4 separate regions of the Homo sapiens genome follow, and regions 2, 3 and 4 are each linked to region 1. Evidence: fine-mapped expression QTL. A gene starts in region 1. Each other region holds a variant in brackets. All regions are shown on one strand. Distances are between the middles of the regions.

Region 1 (5,148 bases):
CCAACATCACCTAGGGGATAGTGAGGGATAGGGAACCTGGTCAAATAATGGGGGTGATCACATATTAGGGGGTGGTTCTTCCTAAAGTGACTTAGCAAGGCTGTTTGCTAAAACTGGATTTTATAAGGAAGTGTGCAGATGGGCCTTGGAGGAGATTCAGGAACCTGACTAGTTTGGTAGAACAAAGAATCTCTGTCACTAGGTCACAGTCCGGGAGGGCAGGAAGGGGAACTGTGGCAGGGCCAGCTCACCACACTGGGGCATCTGGTCACCTGGGCGGGGTGGGGGAGAGGGGGGCTCACTGCCTGTTTTCCGTGTTGAGGCTGCAGGGAAGCGTGAAGTTTTGAAATACATAATACAGGCCCCACGTGGTTCTGACCCAGCACCACGCAGTTCTCAGAACCACACATTCTAGCCCTGCAAGCACCTGAGGCTTGGTTCCCGGGCCAGAGGCTGGTACCTGACTCTGGGGTAAAGAGGAGAGCCGGGGCTGTCTGCGGGGCCTCAGGGCTCGGCGATGGCTGAACCCCACAGTGAGAGCCCTCGTGCCCCAGGTTTTCCATCGTCTTCCTCTCACCTTTGGGGCGCTCCAGATAAGAAGTGGCGTTTCTCAGGGAGGCGCCCCCACCTCAGCTCCTCCTGTCTCAGGCCCCACTTGGTGGGGAGCCGCCGCAGGCGGGGAGCCCGGGCTTGCCCCTGCGGGCAGTCACCGCTGCCCTGTGCCCCGAAACCACCCTCCCCGCCCCCCAGTGACCTCCCACCTCCGGGGTTCCTCTCCGCCTTGCTGCCTGCTTTGGCTTTAGAAGGGAGCTCAAGCTCAGCGGCTTTTGGGGCAGCCACGTTAGGTGCTGGGGAATGGAAGAGGATGACACTGCCTATTTTGACTCAGATCTTCAAGGATGAGCACACCCTCCCCTGGTAGCAACTTCTGCACCCGCCGGCCACCCCGTAGGGCCCTGCCCCGCACCGCACCCGGTGGCCTCCCCGGAGGGCCGTGACCCAAGCACCGCACCCGGCGGCTTCCCCAGGTGCTGCTCCGCCCAGTGCCCCCCCAGATCTCAACGTGGTGCCACAATGCCGCCCTCTCGCACATCGTGTCCTTGGACTATGTCTTCCTTTGAAAGGTCAGTTGCCAGGGGCCCTCACGACTCCTTGGGTGTGCTTTGGGCCGGCATGTATGTCCTCTTGCCCTTCTCTTACACAGAAGAGTGGGGAGGGTGTCCTAAGAATTTGGCTTGTCCTAAGGAAAATAAAGTTGTAATTTCAAGGCACTGACCAAGGTCTCTGTACTACTCAAGAGCTCAAGAGTGGCCACGGGGGAAGATAGCCCTGGGTGTAAAAGGGCCGCAGAAGGGAATCCCCTGTGCTCTGCATTAAAAAACCCCCAGGGGACAGGAGGCTGAAGAAAGGGAACCTACCACTTCTCCATAAAATAGTGTCAGTGAGCTGTCCAGGAGGGCAGGGGATCTGCCGATAAGAGAGCATTTAGGAAAATATGCCGACTCCTTAAATTGGGTTTCGATTTTTCAGCTTTTGAAAATATTGGTTTTCTTTAGGACAGGTTTCTGTACTTGCCAACAGTTGCCAGTTATCCACCAGCAGACTGCAGGAAGAAGAGACAATCTTCACCTCCCTCCTGGGTAGGGAGAGCTGAGAATTCACTAGGCTTAGCCTAACAAAGCCCGCAGTGGACGTTTCTGCTGTACCTGTCCAAGGCGTGATAGTTCCCCAGACTTTGGGGAATATCACCGTGGGTTATTTTGTCTAGTTAAGTCCCTGTGGTGGGATAAGGATGGCTCCTAGAGCATGTCGGCATCAGTAGTTCCTGGAGTGGATTTTCCTACACCGTCTAGGTATGAAAATTTGGTGGGAGAAAAGACCCCAGGAAAGGGGAAAGCAGGAAAGTGGAGCTAAGGGATGCTGCTATAACACTCATCCTGTTGTATCTGTTCTGTTTCCCTGAACTTTGAAGATAGTTATGCTGAGTACCCCCTTTAAAATGATTTTCTTCTACACTGTACCTTCCCATGGTCATGTTCTTGGTGGGGTGTGTTTCACATGTCCAGCCCTGTGGGGTTGGGGGGACACTAGAAGAGGTAGTGGGAAGCCAGACTTTCCCACATCATTCCACCGAGGCCACGGAGGCAGGAGGAACCGAGCCTTCCCTGTGCTCGGCACTGTGTTTTTCTTCATCATGTCACTTTTTACATTAACGTGTATTTTTGCTTGCTTCCAGAAAAGCACCTACATCAGCTATGCTGTAATCCTTGCTTTTCTCACCCAATAACTGGGAATCCCCAGAGAGCCAAAACTATCTTTTTAATCTCTTATTTCTTCATCACCTAGTACCATTTGGTGCTCAATCAACGTTTACTGAGCGGAAGAAAACGGAAATAAGACATTTTCCTCAAGGAGCAGAAATCATTACACGTATTTGGTCCAAACAAATAAAAATAAAGAGAACCAATGAAGACTGAAGTAAACCACATCACGATTACATAAATGTAAAGATCTGGTTGCTTGTGTCCTTTTTATAATACATACTATGATCTTTGCCAATTAACACTGGAGGACTCTTTCTGGTCGATAAAATGTTTGGATAATTAAGTATGCTTTCATTTTATGTCCCGGTATCAAAGATGTCCATTTATTCAAAACAAAGGGAGTGAACATAAAACATAAAAAGAAAAAAAAAAAGGCCTGTGGCTCCTCCTCCCAGACACCCCCCTCCAACAGTGATGAATAGGAGGGACTGTCTCCCTCCCCCATCCCTCGGAGACTAGCCTTGCAGTGTTTTAGACTGTTTTGAAATTCTGTTCTTTAGAAGAGATTTTTTTTTTCTTCTTAATATCAAACAAAGAACTGCTGCTATTCCTTTGGGCTGGCGCAGCAGGGGCCGGTGAAATGCAGGCTGACGACGGCGCGCCAGGGGCTGAGCTCGCCCCGGTCGGCGACGCGCACACACCTTGAGTGACAGCGACCTCTTCTCTACAGGTTTTCCCCGCGGGAGCGTGGCCCTAGCGGGCGTTCGGTTTTCTTTGGAAATCGCGGAGGGGGCTGGCCGGGCGCAGCGATCCCCACCCCGGGACTCCAGCCCCGGCCGTGCGCGTCGCCGCGGACGGGCTCTGCGGGCCACGGGGAAGGTGCGAGGAGGCGCGAGCAGGCTGTGAGCCGCTGGGCGCTCCCGCGAGCCCGCTCCTCTCCGTCGGGAGCAGGGCAAAGGCGCCAGGAACAGGGCAGAGGCACAGCGCCCACCGCCTCTGCGGCCGCCTGATGTGCGAGCAGCCCGCGACGAGGCAGTGCACGCTCAGACGCCCCGCTCCTCCCGCCAGCGCGCGGCCTCGCTCCTCCTAGAGGACGCTCTCTGCGCGGGCCCTCGGAGGAGGCGGCGGCGGGGCGAGCTGCAGCGCCGGGACAGGAGGTTTGTCCCCGCCCGCGCGCCGTACCGCGGCGGAGATGGGCGAGACCATGTCAAAGAGGCTGAAGCTCCACCTGGGAGGGGAGGCAGAAATGGAGGAACGGGCGTTCGTCAACCCCTTCCCGGACTACGAGGCCGCCGCCGGGGCGCTGCTCGCCTCCGGAGCGGCCGAAGAGACAGGCTGTGTTCGTCCCCCGGCGACCACGGATGAGCCCGGCCTCCCTTTTCATCAGGACGGGAAGGTGAGTCGGCGGCCTGGCCGCAGAGGCGCCGGAGGGGGAGCGCGGCGGTGGTAGCGTCCACCTTCCGCCAGGCGTGACGTCACAGGCGCGCGCCGGGCTTGGGAGGGCGCGGGATGATAGCGCCTAGCACCTGTCTCCGGGCCTTCCCGATGAGCCGCGCTTAGGGTCCGTGGGCTTCAGCTGCATGAACCACGTTCCAGCAGTTCGGCCCTCCTGGCCCCAACGCGCCTTTGAAATACGCGGACAGTGCGCTTTCCTTCTTGGCCCGAGCGGCGCTTCGCAATGCGGGCTTGTGCACTCGTGAGGCCCGCGGACACCTCCCGCCCCTGCGCGGCGGAGCGCTCCGCCGGCTACCTGCTCCTCAGAAGTGGCCTGGAGGCTGGATTTCCTTGGCCATATCTGGTCCCTGGGCTCTCGCCGACAAAGAAGCATTGTCCGTACTGTCTGTGTGCCCAGAAATGGGAAGCGGGTGTAAGGGGAGGCCAAACTTGACTTTCTTAGTGTCGCGAGGTGGGTCAGAGCGTTACATTGACATAAAACAGATTAACAACAGAAAAACATACATCTCTTGAATATGTTTTACGTGAAAAAGACACAAAGAAATGGCAAAACCCAAATACTTTTGTGCTAGGCAGAACCAAGAGCGGCAGCTGTGGGAGAGTAAAGTGTGCGGGGAGGCTAATGGAAGATGGAACTGCTTGAACCACGTCTAGGTAGAAATCTCCGCCTTGCTCGGCTCTGGTGCCGAGTGTTTCTTTGTTCCTGGTGTAGGGAGGCCATGTTTTACAGGAGTTTTCTCTTGTTTCATGAAGAAAAGGGGGCAGTTTAGAGCACTCTTCTGTTTTTCAAGTGCTTTTAGCTTAAAATAATCCTTATGCCAGAGACATATTTTTGGGATGGCATACCCTGTCACCCTTCACGGGCTATCTGAACAGAATCTAACGTGGGAGGCAAAAAGTGGGAATAAAACAGAAGATTGAATATCAGCACAACTGTTTTCATGCTTGGTAAAACCGTACCTTTACCAGGTTTTCTTTTTCCACTGAGGTACGTGTTCCAATGGCCACTTCACCTCCTTGGATCTCCATGTATTTCATATTTGGCTAAAACTAAGAAGGTAATTTTGAAAGAGCCATTGGTCTGAATATGGAATCTAAGGCAAGTGACTTCTGTAAACCTCTCTCTTCTTGAATGTGGTTAAAAACTCGAAACAGGCCGGGCGCGGTGGCTCACGCCAGTAATCCCAGCACTTTGGGAGGCCGAAGCGGGCTGATTGCTTGAGCCCAGCAGTTCGAGACCAGCCTGGCCAACATGGCAAAACACCGTCTCTACAAAAGAAAAATACAAAAATTAGCCGAGCGTGGTGGTGGACGCCTGTTCAGCTACTCAGGAGGCCGAGGTATGAGAATCGCTTGAGCCTCGGAGGTCGAGGTTGCAGTGAGTGGAGATTGCGCCATTGCACTCCAGCCTGGGCGACAGAGCTAGACG
Region 2 (5,148 bases), 110 kb after region 1:
TCTTTGCAAACATTATGTCAATTAGTGATACATCTAAAATACATCTTGAGAGGCTGGGGTAGGAGAATTGCTTGAGGCCAATGGTTTGAGACCAGCCTGGGAAACGCAGTGAGACCCCATCTCTAAAACACAAAATAAAATAAAAAATAAATAATTAAAATGCAGTTTAACTGTAGCAGCTACACCCTTCAGCAGCATCTGTGAGAGAAGTGTTATTTCTGACCAAGCAGAGCTGTGTTTTAAGATGAAGGCTCCCCGACCTGTGAAAAACAGCCCTAGCTCAAGGTTAACTTACAGTATCAACAGTACATTACTTCAGCGATGCTTCTGTCTTCCTACCCACTGGGGACAATTGTCTCCATAGCTTGTATCTTACATTCTCAAATAACATCTAGTTTCTGGTTCCCCTGAGACCAGGTGCATCCTCCACCCACCTCACCCCACTGAACCAAGGATCTGCTGTACACCCTTCCTCATTAGAAACTTCATCTCCACCCTCTTTCCCACTCCCCCAACAAAACAATCAAAGCACATGCCCAAATTTATTTTTATTTTGCACACATAGGAAACAGGATCCTATCAAAAGAGAACAAAAAAGAGAAACGAGCCAATTGTTGCAGAGGAAAAGCATGCACAGATCTGCTTCAAGTTTACTCTGAACCACGGACGCTCCGGGAATTCTACACACCAGGAGCTGTCTCACTCCAGGAAGTGGGCACAACCCACCATCCACACAATGGAAACAAGAATGGCCAGGAAATGTCACCGAAGTGGGACTTCCATATGCAGGATCAGCGTTCACAGTAGCACAATTCTAACCAAGTTCAAGGGAAAACAAACTCTGTCTCACACAAACATGGGAATACAAAATTGTTGAGCCCTAGCCATCACTGTCTCTTAACATAATTTGCTATCAAAAAGACAAACGAAATTTAGTCACGGACTTTTGGGTGCCTATTCAGCTGCACCCGATTCCAGGGGCAGCTTAGTGTGCTTTTTCATTACAAAAAATAAAGACATTAAAAATGCAAAACAAATGACCTGGAGGAAGAGGAGTGTTTGGACCCACGCAGTTGTCTTGGTTGTAAACAGTGAACATTGTGCTTTGTTGTCTCATTTAGATGGAGGCCTGCAGCATGGGAGGTACCACGCTGGCAGTCAGCAGTCACACCAGGGTGGTCAGAGACACTGGTGGCAGCATCTGTGCTTGCAACTGCATTCCCAGGGTGTCTGTTTTGTTCCCAAGTGTCTCCCACAAAATTCCCCAGGAGGTTCTCCGATTAAATGTCCTCAGAGTGAAAAGCATGGACACCAAATCACTCCGTATCCACTTCCATGAGATGTCTTGATGCTCCAGTTCAATGAGTAACAATTTCTCAAGAGGCTCTGATTAGTTCATTAAAAAATAAGCACCCCCACCTCATTCCCCGTGATACAGCACATCTAGTAATCTAGGCGCCTCAGCTAAGCTGCATAGCTCTTAGCACACAGGACAGGTCAGCGTTCACACATCAACACTATAACTATGCGGCGGAACTAGCTCCCCGCTAGCCGTCAACTACTCAGGAGACTACCTGTGAGATCCTGGGGTGAGCTGTGATTCCTATCCAGGAATGTGCATTTCCGACCACTTCTTCTTTATTCTAATTATGACAACATGGTCAGTGCAGTTGAGTCAGTACTTCTCCTGTCTTTTCCCAGCAAGCTCCTCCTCCTTGGAGCCCAGCACACACCCGCTTAGACCCAACACAACCTCAGAGAGAGACGCCTCAGCTGGTCTCTCTCCCTGGAAGAGTCCATGTGACTTCCCAGCCAGATGTGCCCCGTTTTGAAAGCACCCTTCAGAACCCACCACTGGAGCTGCCTGAGGGAAGGAGACCCCCGGGCCTGAGAATGCCCTGGAGAGGCAGTGATGTCCAGGGAAGACACACACCCAGTCTGATTTCAAAGGGCAGGACGCTCTACATGCACTTCCATAAACACACCAAAAAAATGGGTAACAGTCCTTTCTCCAAATCAGACCAAGAGCTCACAAAATGCAATGTCTCAGTTTGGGGCAGGAAGTGATTTCCCATGAATTTAAATAAATTTGCTTAGTGGATGTCAGATCACTGTCAGGCCTCCAAGGCAAGCCTGATTCTAGGCCCCATCCTGCGGTGAGAGCTGCACGTGCTACCCTTCCCTGGCGGTGCAGGAGAAGTCTATCTTTAGGATATGAACAGAGACAGAAACATGACAAGGGGCTTGCTCTCTCCTGAATGTCTCTCCAACAGCTTCTGGAAGAGGAAGGCTGACGAGAGGACAGGCTGGAGCAGATGACCTGCTGGGCTCAGCTCAGTCGGCTGCTGCTTCATCGGCTGAGCCGCCCGGCATGGGGCTTCCTATTAATACCCGGGCAGAAGGATGCTTGCCTGGGATGCTCGGCCTGGCCCCTCTACATGCCACCTGCACCTCCAGCACTGCCTTCTTCCTCTCAGTCTCTCTCCTGTAGATCTGGTCACGCCACCGTAAGGACGTCAGCCCTCGGGGACTGTCACCACACTACCATGTGAGAGCACAGACTGCGTCAGAAACAGAAGCAACAGAGGAGACAAAGTGTGAGTTCATATATTGTACTCCATGGAAAGCCTGAAAGAGAGCTGTGCTTGCTGTGAGGATATCAGAGGAACTGCCCTTAGCAGCCCACGAGACCGTTCCTGGAAGTGAACATCAACGAAGACAGAAAGGCCAGGGAAAGGCCCTCTCCTGTCTCTCCTCTTGCACGTGGGCACCCCACTACTTGGCCTTCACTACCTGTTCGTACGGGGGCGGAGGCGTGTTGCAGTAGGCTGGAGGGGGCGGGCAGGCCACACTCCCCTGGGGTGAGTTGGGTGGGACCTGGAAAGCCATTGCCATGGAATTCCCGACAGGGTTCATCCCCGGTCCTCCTGGGTC[G/A]GTGTAATAGGGCGGCCCCGGCTGCTGGGCTCCTGAAAGACAGACAAACATAGGTGAGCACAGAAGGGAAAGCCCCATCACACCGCAAGTATGTGCAGGCTGCAGGGCCAGCAGACCACGCCCCGTCATTCACTCAGCGACAGTGTATGAAGGACCCAACATGCCCGGTGAGGGGGCACCTGGGCTGTGGTGACAAGCAACACAATAGGCAGGTCCCTGCCCTCTCGGGGCTTTGATTCTACTGGACTACATTCCACGTTACCAGTTCACACATTAGGGTGGAGGAAACTGGGCCACAGTAAGGTGAGGCTGTCTGCGGTGAACTATCGGAAGAGCTGCAAAGACCACCCAGGCTTCGCGACTCAGCCTGGCATTATCGCAGGAGCTCCACAACCCCTCTGGGCACGCCATTGGCTGGTGACCATTTCTGAAGTAAGGTCTCCATTCTCCCTGCCGGGCTAGTGTGCCCTCAGGGCAGGAGTTACTCACAGGCAGGGAGGCCGTGCACCTGGGCACACATAGCCAGGCTGCAGCTGATTGACGCTCCATGGGTCAGGAGCGGAGCCGCAGGCTGACTCCCTAGTGACAAGCTGAGGAGCAGGGCACGGGGGCACCACAGAAGGTGACAGGAGGGTACAGGCTGGACACCCGACCCCAAATCTAGCCCTCACTCTGAGGTGCTGTTTTCAGTGTGCTTACTGTGATCATGCAGATTAACACTATAGAATTATGCATATGTAAATAAAGAATCAGACAAAACCGTGAAAGTGCTGGGTGTTCCCTGGGTATAGCTGATTTTGTGACAGGACTCAGGTGTTTTTGAAGTGAGGCTTCCTTTAGCTCAGGGAGACACTCAAGTGTCAAAGAAGCTGCCCCTGTGTGAATATTGTGTAGGGTTTTTTTTCTTTTTTTGCAATTCTCCCCCTGACACAGTGTGATATAGTTCTGACTCTAGAAACATGCCCATCAAGGTACACAAGATGTCCCAAAGCCCACATAAGTCAGACCATGGGAATCTGCGCATGTGCGGAAGGAGAGCATGTAGAACAGAAGCACAGGCCAGGCCTGCACTGTCTCTCACTGAGCGCTCTCAACTGCCAGGAGGGCACTCAGCACAGATGCCACCCTGTGTGAGAGGCTGCCTCGCCCTGCATCTGTGCCGTCCCACAGACACCACCTGAGTGAGATGCCGTGTGGTCCCACAGATGCCACCTGCGCTGCTCTGATGCATCTCACCCGCTGCCTTGGGTGTGTTCTATTTAGAAGTCGACTTACTGCCATTACCATGAGTTTCGCAAGGGCAGAGATTATGTTTTATTTAGATCTGGATCCTGCTATATGTTATACAATTAAAAAACCAAGGATTTTTAAAAAGAGGGCATTGCAACAGTCTAAGCAAGACATTATGAAGGCTTCTGAATATTAGAGAAAAAATGGAGAAGAGAGAATGAGGCACTGAGGGCTGTCGGCAATGACTGGCCTGGGATTGACTCGATGGGGAGCGCACAGCGTGGGAGACAAGGGCTGAGAAGAAAAGGCCCTAGGTTCTGCTCACAATAAGGGCCCCCCAACAGGCAGGGCAATACAGGAGAACAGGGGCTCTGCAAGAATTAGCGCCTTACCAAGGTCACACTACTGCTACAGCAGCACCAGGACAAGGGCGGGGCAGATGAAAAAGTCCCTGCTGGACTGGAGAGGGCGGAGGCAGCTCTGGAGCTGGAGCCTCCTGTGGGAAGGTGGTGGTGGAAACATGGGCATGTCCAGGAGAAGGCTGCAGGAAGGAGCAGCACTGAGGCCAGGAGAGGAGCATGAAGTGTCTAAGGCTGATGAGAAGGATGCATAGGCAATGGGAAGATGCGGCAGGAGGTGGTGCACCAGGAGCCAGGGCAGCAAGGGGTGGGAGAATTTTCAGGAAGAAGTGATGTTCTCTCCCCAGCTGAAGAGAGATGGAAATAAGCACGGCTGTAGCCTTGGGGTTCCCGTGCTCTTTCTCTACAGTTTCACACCATGGTAGACACAGGTCCCTGCTGCAGTAGGGAGAAACAGTCCAGGGTGTGGGTGAAGACTGTAGGAGGGGACGGGTGGCAGCTGGAAGGCACGCAGGGCAAGAGAAGGTGCCTTTGTAAGGATGGAAACGCTTGCGCATATGGGCAGGGGTAGGGACAGACACAGGACAGAGAGAACTTTCGGGGAGAACACAGCTCGGTGAGGGTA
Region 3 (5,148 bases), 110 kb after region 1:
GGGGATGCAAAAGAGTCCGGCAGGCCGCAGAGGGAGGGGTGGAAATGCAGGGAGAAGGAGAGGCAGCTGACAGAGTATGTGGCCCAGGAGGGACAGAGGCCAGGGGCCCAGGGGCCTGACTCCTGACAGCGTTCCAGTTACACCAGGATCCCCACACCATTTTAGTCAGCCCCTCCAAACTCAGGGCACGTGGGTCTCTGGTCTCACCTCTCCTCCTCTCCAGCCATGCCCTGGCTTCCCTGCTCTGTCCCCTCTGGCCCAGCTGCTCCTCCAGCCATGGGCAGGAGCCTCAACACAGGGCACCAGGGGCAGAGCTCGTTCCTGCCACCCAAGCTGTGGCAGGCTTGGCCCTACATTCCTCCCCACCAATCACTCATGGGACGGTGGGCTCTCCAGAGGGACAGGGCCTGCTATGATGGGCTCCTGCCCACTTCAGAGCCTTGTGTCTCACCGCCTGCCCTATTCTCCATCTCCAGCAGTAACCACACTGCCTGGATCCGGTCTGCCCTCTCTGGGCCCTCACTAGATAACATATCCCAGGCTTTCACCATGCAAACCGTGTCTCCTGGAATGCCTGTGACCACCTCATGCCAGGCACCTCCTAGCCTCTGGTCTGGCTAATTGCCATGTATCTTTCAGTCTCAGCTCAGAATCACCAGGCAGCCCCCTCTTGCTGCCTGTCACTGCCTTCCCAGCTGAGCAGGCACCCCTGTCCTCTGGTACCCAGAACAAGGCACGTCCATGAGTATGCAGCAGTTGCCTAGTATGGTATGATTTTCTGAGCCTTCTGAACACGAGGACAGAGCATCACTCACCCTGGTTCCCTGAGAGCCCAGAACGGCACCTTGCATGTGGCAGACGTTCCATAAATACACGGGAGGAGTGACTGAAGGGGGGACGAGTGGCGACTTGGATCTGGACTTTGGCGCTGCCAGATTGTGCTGGGTGTGCATGGGTTTCCTGAGACACACCTGTTTCTGATATGACAGGAGTGACTGGCTGCCCCACTCAGCAAGCCTGTGCCAAGGCCGTGGCTCCTGTCGAGGGGAGGATCCCAACCCCCTGCTGCAGGTGAGGGAGGGGCGGGAGTGTGGTCTTTGTAGAAGAGAGGCAGCCAGGCTATGTTTGCAATGTGGCCACTCACGCTGCAGAACCAGAAACACCAGCACCTGCATCCAGTCTAATCGGTATCTTCGTGTTCATAGACACAGTGATGGATCCTACCAGGAACTGGTGGGACGGGATTGAAATATTTGAACATGGAGATGGAGAGGTATTTGGAATATAAAAGAGAACGGATAGAAAATGAATAAACTGTGTACTTGTCAAGAACATGAACCCTTAGGTTAAAAAATTGGTGACCACGCTGGAGAGGCTACAGTTGAGGTTAAAGGGCAGCAGGGCCGGATGCTGGAGCCTCATGTGAGTAGCTGAGGGACCCCGGCCAGGTGGAGGCAGCGCGGCCGCGGAAGCAGCATGCAGAGGCCGCACCCACCCAGACAGCTGCTCAGCTTCTGCTCATTTGGCTACAACTCCTCACAGGACGCTGGCCATGCTTACCATTCAGGCTCCCACAAAGAAGAGCAACCGAGAGAAGGTGGACCCAGTTCTCACAGAGGCAGAGACTCATTTAGGAAAGAGAAAGCAAGGACACTTCATTCTCTGCATGAAGCCTGCGGACAGAAGACCAGCACGGTCTGGAATGTGCCCACAGACTTCAGAGAGATCACGGCAAAGACATTCCCACAAACCACAGATGATTATATGGCACATGGCTCTGGAATCAAAAGCACCTTAAAGTCATAACCTCAACTCCTTAATCACAAATAATCACAAAGAGAACAAAAATGTGAGTGTCCCAAATGAAGCCCTGTGACTAAAGAGCAAAATTACAAAATGAGATTATTACCAGGAGCAAATACAGAATGAAGTCAGGAAAAAAAAGCCCAAGGGAGCTGCAGCTTGAAGCAATGACTCTAGCCAAAAAAGGGGGCTTTGCATGTGCACAGAGAATAAAGAAGATTAAGAAATAAAACAAATAGCAAAAGAAACTACCTTAAATGGTATTCTCTCCCAAGGAGAATGGTTTGCAAACTGAAAGGGAGAAACAAAAAAATGGGTGAGGGAAAATGAAAGACCAAGATAAATGAGAACTGACCGGATGTTGGGGAGAGCATTCAGATTGCCTGCCTCCAACCAAGTACCTCTCAGTGCAGGAAGCATGGAATAGAACCAGGACCTCAGGGTCCCATGACATGCTAAGTGCATTTTCCTCACAGATTCATGTATCTC[A/G]CATACAGCCTGTCATTCTAGCCACCGAGGAATGCTATGAGATACACACTATTTCAATTTTACAGATTCAAAAGCGGAAGTCCAAATAAATTACACAATGTGCTCAAGGGACTCTCCTTCCAGTGGACACTGTTGCATCTGTGAGGACCCAGGCGGACCTCTCTCAGCCAGGAAGGAGAGTTGGAGGGGGAAGAGCTGAGGGGGGCAGCAGGGGCCCATGGAAGGAGCCCGGCCCGAGGATGCTGCTGAGCCATGCAGTTAAACCATGGCCCTTCCTCTATGTGACTTTCTATCGTAAGAGACAATTCTTTCTTATTTTTGAAGCTGGCTGAATTGAGGTATGTGTTACTTGTAGCCAAAAGCCTTGAACTACCTCTTCCAGAGAACATTTTCTTTTTTTTTTTTTTATTATTATACTTTAAGTTTTAGGGTACATGTGCACAATGTGCAGGTTAGTTACATATGTATACGTGTGCCATGCTGGTGTGCTGCACCCATTAACTCGTCATTTAGCGTTAGGTATATCTCCTAACGCTATCCCTCCCCCATCCCCCCACCCCACAACAGTCCCCAGAATGTGATGTTCCCCTTCCTGTGTCCATGTGTTCCAGAGAACATTTTCACAAACAACAGAGGTGTTGCCAGCTCAGTACTGGCATTTCTGTGTCCTCTGAGCTTTCTAGTTTGGTTTGGTTTGAGGTTGTATCTGTTCATTTTGCTAAACTGTCTCAACTCTTAGAAATATTTCTGAGCTCATTCTCCAGGATTTTTAGGTAAGTACTGATGATAAACTGTTTACAAACAGTAATAGTTTTGTTTCTCCTTCCTGATGGTTGAATATTTTCATTTTAGCCAGAAATTTTAGAGCAATATTAAATATTATTAAATATCAGTTATGATATTAAGCAATCCAATTTTCATGGGAATTATTTTATAGTTTCACCAAATGTGATGTTAGCAAAGAATCTAAAGTGCATACTCAACAATTATTTATGCAACATCTCCCGTTCAAAAGGCATAGCTGGTAACATGGAGCACACAGTGGAAGGCTTGAGCCTGGAACCCAGGAATTTACATGAGGTCTTTATTACATTAATAAAAGGCCTTACATGGCTAGTTTTGAGAGAGTTTTGATAAGGAATATATATCAAATTGTGCTGACAGCCTCTTCAGCACCTACTGAGACAATCATTGCTTTCTGATATAACTTACAATGTTAATTGCGTGCCTAAAATAAAACGATCTTTTGTTAAGAAGATCATGGTTGGTTATGATGGTTTACTATTTTGACACATTGCTTAATTCAGTTTCCTAAATATGATTCGATATAATTTTATTTTGGTGTTTATTCCCAAGTTATACTAACTTTACAACATGAATACGTAGCATTCCTATGATTTGCAGTAATTGATACATTCATTAAAATGAATTGTTTCTTAAAAGTTTCAAAAAAGCCATATGAACTTAAAGACATTCTGGGAGATAATTCTTTGAAAATGTCTTCAAGCTCTTGCTTGCTTTTTGAGTTATTGAAATTTTCAATGTCTTTACGCACTTTGGTATCATAAAGTACTTACGCACTTTGCCATCTTACCAGATTTTCCAATTCATGAATACTTCCTTGTGATTTTCAACTCCTTTGAATCTGTAGTGTTTTAATTTATGCTTTTATTTTTGTGTTCTTCTCCTTTATTGATTAGATTTATCAGGAGGGGAACAAGCAATGTGATTTGCTCTATTGCTTTTTATCAACTGCTAACTTAGATTTATAATTATATTTTTCTGATTTTTACAATTAATTTGTATTTCATTTATAATTTCTCCCATCTCTACTTCCCAGGCTTAATTTTACCCACTCTTTATATATTTCTGTGACTTTATTAATTTCTGAGCCTCTTTTGAGGAGAGCTCAGTTCATTTGCTTTTTCATAAACTTTTAACAGAATAAAGCTATGAATCTATTAATACCTCTAAAAATTGGCTGAACATGTACTGCATATGCTGTTGCATTCCTTTCACTGATGCCTATGTCCATTTGTGTGTTCAACAAAGACTGAATTCTCACTGAGTGCCAGCACTGTTCTGGGCACTGAGGATGTAACAATGACAAAAACTGAAAATCTCAGTTCTCACGTTACTTGCAGTTTAGAGAGACAATGAGCAAGGTAAGAAAAATAGGTTAGTTGGTGATAAGTGCTAAAGATGAAAATAAAGCAGGAAAATTGAAAAATGAAAAGCCAACAGGGGAGGGGGAAGGGCAGTGCCATTCTTCCTTGTGTCTGCAGGCCTCATGAGGAGGTGAAGGACCTCAAGGAAATGGAACTGTTGGGCAGAAGGGGCAGGCAGCAGGTACTGGAGGAGCGTGCCGTGTACCTGGGCGTGTCCATGGAGAAAGAGACTTTTAGGCAGAGGAATGGCTGTCTGGAGGGTCTCAGGACAAGTCACAGGCCAGTGAGTGGCAGCAGGGGAGTGAGCCAGGAGGGGCCACAGGAGAGGCCAGAGCCCGCTGGGCAGCCAGGAGGGGTGCTGAGAGAAGAGAGGGCCTCCTTGGCCTCTCAAAGTGCTTCTGTGGCACAGTGGGCCCATGAGAGTGTTGGGAGCACAAGCCCTGGCTCCTGCTGTGACTCTGGCTGCCTTGCTGGAAGCAAGAGGCAGCAAGAGAACCACCAGGGAGGCTCTCATCAGAGTCTGAATAAAGGGTGGTAGCAGCCAGGGTGGTGTCGAGAGAAAAGGCCAACTGGCCTCAAGGCTCCTGGCTGGAGCCCTGGAAGAACAGAGGTGGGGCCTGGAAAGAGGGCGGAGGAAAGAACCAGCACTGCAGGGTCCTCCACTCCCACCTTTTTGACTCAATACATC
Region 4 (5,148 bases), 51 kb after region 1:
TACAATTATTATATATCAATGAAAAATTTAAAAAGGAAAAAGCATATGTAATATGGTCTTAGAATTGGGGGTAAAAATACATCTTCTTCATAGTATAAACTACAGAAAATAAGTGTAGACTAAAGCTCTCTGCCAGCGGAGAAACAGACCCTGCGCCGTGGAGTCTGCACATCTGTTTGCGTCTCTGAGCAGAGGGCGAGGTTTGTGTTTGACCAAGGCAGGGGGTTCAGTGGGGGAGGCAAAACTAGGGAAGTACAGCTCTACACTGTTTTCTCTCAAGTTACAGTTAAGTTGAGAGGGCCTCCATTTATTAAAGCTGTCTCTTAAAATTAGGTAGGAAATGTTCAAGTTTTATGTAATAACAAGCTCTAACATTTTCTTCTCCTGGCATATGAAGTCCTAAGTTGTTCAGGCATGCTTATGAAGGTGTAAAGTGTTCAAGTACTTGAAAAAATATTATTAATTATCCTTTACAAAGAAAACTGTAAGTTCAGTCCAGACTCACAAAATTTATTTTCCCTCCCTGTAGATGCTCATCATGTGTTAGTATTTAGTAGGGTATATACTCTTCTGTGTAGGAACGTGTATTACTTGTTAATTTAAAGTTATGTGGTATTTTAGATGGCCTTAAAATGTAAAGGTTTGGCCAGACACTGTGGCTCACACCTGTAATCCCAGCACTTTGGGAGGCCAAGGCAGGAGGGTTGCTTGAGCCCAGGAGTTGGAGATCAGCCTGGGCAACATGGCAAAACCATGTCTCTACTAAAAAAAAATACAAAAATTATCTGGGTGTGGTGGCACGCACCTGTAGTCCCAGGTACCTAGGAGGCTGAGGTGGAAGGATGGTTTGAGCCTGGGAGGCGGAGGTTGCAGTGAGCTATGATCATGCCACTGCACTCCAGCCTGGGTGACACAGCAAGACCCTACCTCAAAAAAAAAAAAAAAAAAGAAAAGAAAAGAAAAAGGCAAGGTTTTAACAATATTCTACATTGTATTAGGAATTTTATTAATTGTGAATGATTTTCTAACAAATTACATCTGACAAAAAATCATGGGTAATGGTGGCAAATTCTTCCTTCTATTCACGTTTTGAGTTCTAGGGCATTAGGAATTTGTGTGGGTTTAGCCACTGTAAACAAATACATTTGTTAAATGAGATTGTATTTGGAAAGGTAAATGCAATGTCCAAAAAAAGCATATAATACCCCCACCAGGGTGACACGAGTGCAGTCCTTAGATGCTGAACTGAATCTGGCAGCAGCCACAGCATCACTGCTTGTGCCCACACGCCTGCCCTGGGAAGCCCCAGAGAGAACTGCATTGGGAGTGCCCCCTGGTGGCCAACTATTGTATATATGTCAGAAAATGCTTTCATACAAATTCTGTTCCCGAAGCTTGTTTGCAAGTTGATTATTTGAAACATGGAATGTTTTTCTAGGGGTATCAGAATTACTTGAAAAGTTTTTTTAAGCTATACTTTTTTTCCTCCTTACTCAAGATTCTGATACCTTCTTAATTTTAAGCATCACTTAAATAAATGTACCATAGTTTATCATTGTTTTTCTTTCTTTTTTTTGAGACACAGTGTCGCTCTGTCTCCCAGGCTGGAGTGTGCAGTGGCGCAGTTTTGGCTCACTACAACCTTTGCCTCCTGGGTTCAGGTGGTTCTTGTGTGTTAGCCTCCCAAGTAGCTGGGATTACAGGCACACGTCACCATGCCTGGCTAATTTTTTGTATTTTTAGTAGAGACGGGGTTTCACCATGTTGCCCAGGCTAGTCTTGAACTCCTGACCTTAGGTGATCTGCCTGCCTTGGCCTCCAAAACTGCTGGGATTACGGGCATGAGCCACTGTGTCCGGCCAGTTTATCATTGTTTTTCATCGGTTTCCAGGTTTTGGCTATTAGGAACAAGCTGCTATGAACATTCTTGCACAGGTCTGTCTAGAGACACATGTCTTCATTTCTTTTGGGTTAATATCTAGGAGTAGAATTACTGGATCGGAGGGTAGGTGTATGTTTAGTTTTAGAAATTGCCACTTTTTCCACAAGTTCTGGTTGTTCTGCATCTGCCAACACTTGATGTTGAAAGTCTTTTTAATTTTAATTATTTTGGTGGGTATTTCATTGTGGTTTTATTTGTATCTTCCTGATTGACCAGGGTTGATTAATGTTGCATGTGCTCATGGGCCAATTGTGTATCTTCCTTTGTTGACTGTCTCTTCATATCTTCTTCTT[A/C]TTATTATTATTTTTTGAGACAGGGTCTTGCACTGTCACCCAGGCTGGAGTGCAGTGGTGGATCTTGGCTCACTGTAGCCTCGACCTTCAGGGCTCAGGTGATCCTCCCACTTCAACCTTCCAAGTAGCTGGGGACTACAGGCACGTGCCACCACACCTGGCTAAATCTTTTTATTTTTGTAGGGGTCTTGTTTTTTGCCCAGGCTGGTTTCGAACTCGTGGACTCAAGCAATCTTCCTGTCTTGGTCTCCCAAAGTGCTGGAATTATAGGTGTGAGCCACTGTGCCCAGCCTGTCTCTTCGTGTGTTTTACCTACATTGTTTTATTTTATTTTATTTTTGTCTTTTTGCTATTTTTGAAAGAATTCTTTATATGTTCTGGTTAAAGTCCCTCTGTCAGATATATATCGTACAAATAATTTCTCCCTGTCTGTAGTTTGCCTAATCATATTCTTTATGGTATCTTTTGACTAATAGAGTTTTAAATTTTGATAAAATCTATTTTTCAATGTTTTCTTTTTATGATAATTACTGTCTGTGTTTTGTCTAAGAAACCTTATCTACCCTCAGGTTATATAGATAATACTCTCCTTTAATCTTTATTGTTTTAGATTTTACCTTTAGGCCTGTGATTTATCTCAAATTAAGTTTTGTATATTACATGAGGTAACAAACGAGGTGGTTTTTTTTTTTTTTTTTTTTTTTTTTTGGAGACAGAGTCTCACTCTGTCGCCCAGGCTGGAGTGCAGTGGCACGATCTCTGCTCACTACAAGCTCCGCCTCCCAGGTTCACACCATTGTCCTGCTTCAGCCTCCCGAGTAGCTGGGACTACAGGCGCCCGTCACCACGCCTGGCTAATTTTTTGTATTTTTAGTAGAGATGGGGTTTCACCGTGTTAGCCGGGATGGTCTCTATCTCCTAACCTCATGATCTGCCCGCCTCGGCCTCCCAAAGTGCTGGGATTACAGGCGTGAGCCACCGTGCCCAGCCTGAGGTGTTTTTTTTTAACCATAGGGATATCTGATTGTTCCCATACCTTTTGTGGAAAAGACATTTATTTTTCCCATTTGATTGATTTTGGTTCCTCTATCAAAAATCAAATGACCTAATAAGCCTGGGTCTGTTTCTGGACTCTATTCAGTTACTTTGGCCTGTTTACCTACATGATATTACCACGTTGTTTTTCTTATTCTGCATTTATTGTAAGTTTTGAGATCAGGTAACTTAAGACCTCACTTTGTTCTTTTTCAGAATCACTTTGAATATTCCAAGTCCTTTGTATTTTCATATAAGTTTTAGAGTCCATTTGTCAGCTTCTAAAAATGGAGCCTATTGGAGTTATGAGTCAGAGTGCATTGAATCATTGAATCTCTAGATCCACTTGGGTAGAACTAACTGACATCTTTTTTTTTGAGATGGAGTCTTGCTTGGTCGCCCAGGCTGGAGTAGGTGTGATCTTGGCTCACTGCAACCTCCGCCTCCCAGGTTCAAGCAATTCTCCTGCCTCAGCCTCCTGAGTAGCTGGGATTACAGGTGCCCACCACCATACCCGGCTAGTTTTTGTATTTTTAGTAGAGACGGGGGTTTCACCATGTTCGCCAGGCTGGTCTCAAACTCCTGAGCTCAAGTGATCTGCCCGCCTTGGCCTCCCAAAGTGCTAGGATTACAGGCATGAGCCACTGTGCCTGGCCAGAACTGACATCTTAATAATGTTGAGTCCTTCTGCTCGCAAATGTGGTATATCTCTCCATTTATATTTTCTTTAATTTCTGTCAATAGTGCTTTATAGTTTTTGCTCTACAGGTCTTAACACATCTTCTGTTAAATTTATTCCTAGATATGTTATTTATTTACATTTTCCAATTATGTATTGCCAGTATATAGAAATACAATTGCGTTTTTTTTTTTGGAGACATAGAGTCTCACTCTGTTACCCAGGCTGAAGTGCAGTGGTGTGATCACGGCTCACTGCAGCCTCTACCTCCCCAGGCTCAAGATATCCTCCTGACTTAGCTGAGTAGCTGGGATTACAGGTGTGCACCACCATGCCTGGCTAATTTTTGTATTTTTTTGTAGAGATGGGGTTTCGCCATATTGACCAGGCTGGTCTCAAACTCCCAAGTTCAAGGGTTCTACCCACCTCGGCCTCCCAAAGTGCTGGGATTACAGGCTTGAGCCACTGTAACTGGCCACAGCTGCTTTTTGTATATTGACTTTATATTCTGTGCTAAATTCACGTATCAGTTCTGGTAGCTTTTTATACATTACTTAGGATTTTCTGTGTACACATATTGTATCTGTGAGTTTTCTTCTTCCTTTCCAACCTCTGTGCCTTTTATTTCCTTTACCTCTTTTATTACATTGGTTAGGAGCTATAGTATAATATTGAATAGAAGTGGTCAGAGTGGACATCTTTGCTTTATTCACAATCATAGAAAAAAATATTAAATATTTCCCCATCAAATATACTTTTAACTGTTTTTCTTAGATGGCTTTTATCAGATTGAAGAAGTTTCCTTTTATTACTGGTTATCATGAAGGGATGTTGAATTTTGTCATTTTTTTTTCCTGGATTTATTCAAACGCTCCTATGGTTTTCCTCTTTTGTTTTATTAATATGGTGATTTTACATTGATTGGTTTTTAAAAGTTGAGTCAACCTTGCATTCCTAGTATAAACCTCACTTGGGCATGATTTTTATCCTTTTCTTTTTATTAATATTGCTACATTTGGTCTGCTAATATTTTGTTAAAGATTTTTATGTTTCTTAGTACATATTTTCTTTTTCTATAAAATCTTTGTTTTTATTAGGAATCAGGTATCAGGATTATGCTGGTCACGTACATGAGTTGGAAAGTGTTTTCTCTTATTTTCAGAAAGATTTTGTGTACAATTGGTGTTATTACTTGCTTA

Alleles and levels. Positions count from the first base shown, and alleles are read on the strand shown. Sizes are in standard deviations (SD) of each study's normalised expression. Not every link is listed here.
For the expression in aorta of the gene that starts at base 2,768 in region 1, allele G in region 2 goes with a lower level than allele A (small effect, 0.22 SD a copy in GTEx).
For the expression in iPS cells of the gene that starts at base 2,768 in region 1, allele C in region 4 goes with a higher level than allele A (small effect, 0.34 SD a copy in HipSci).

What was found. PIP is the estimated chance that this variant, and not a neighbour inherited with it, causes the effect.
Region 2: its variant is fine-mapped to the expression of LANCL2 in aorta (GTEx, PIP 0.94).
Region 3: its variant is fine-mapped to the expression of LANCL2 in lung (TOPMed, PIP above 0.99).
Region 4: its variant is fine-mapped to the expression of LANCL2 in iPS cells (HipSci, PIP 0.95).

What each region holds. Positions count from the first base shown.
Region 1 is chr7:55,362,570-55,367,717 of GRCh38, forward strand. It overlaps LANCL2 (LanC like glutathione S-transferase 2), which reads left to right and starts at 2,768. Exons shown (of 9, transcript NM_018697.4): 1 at 2,768-3,660. The coding sequence starts at 3,457. RefSeq lists enhancers at 2,693-2,882, 3,503-3,962, 3,993-4,232 and a silencer at 2,953-3,372.
Region 2 is chr7:55,470,080-55,475,227 of GRCh38, forward strand. VOPP1 (VOPP1 WW domain binding protein) reads right to left here. Exons shown (of 5, transcript NM_030796.5): 5 at 534-2,966. The coding sequence ends at 2,776. Among named protein-coding and RNA genes, the nearest start is that of VOPP1, 100 kb to the right of the region's middle. RefSeq lists an enhancer at 2,894-3,560. The variant G/A (reference allele first, on the strand shown) is at 2,935.
Region 3 is chr7:55,476,466-55,481,613 of GRCh38, forward strand. The region is part of intron 4 of VOPP1 (VOPP1 WW domain binding protein); the gene reads right to left. Among named protein-coding and RNA genes, the nearest start is that of VOPP1, 93 kb to the right of the region's middle. RefSeq lists an enhancer at 1,443-1,993. The variant A/G (reference allele first, on the strand shown) is at 2,293.
Region 4 is chr7:55,414,054-55,419,201 of GRCh38, forward strand. The region is part of intron 6 of LANCL2 (LanC like glutathione S-transferase 2); the gene reads left to right. Among named protein-coding and RNA genes, the nearest start is that of LANCL2, 51 kb to the left of the region's middle. The variant A/C (reference allele first, on the strand shown) is at 2,236.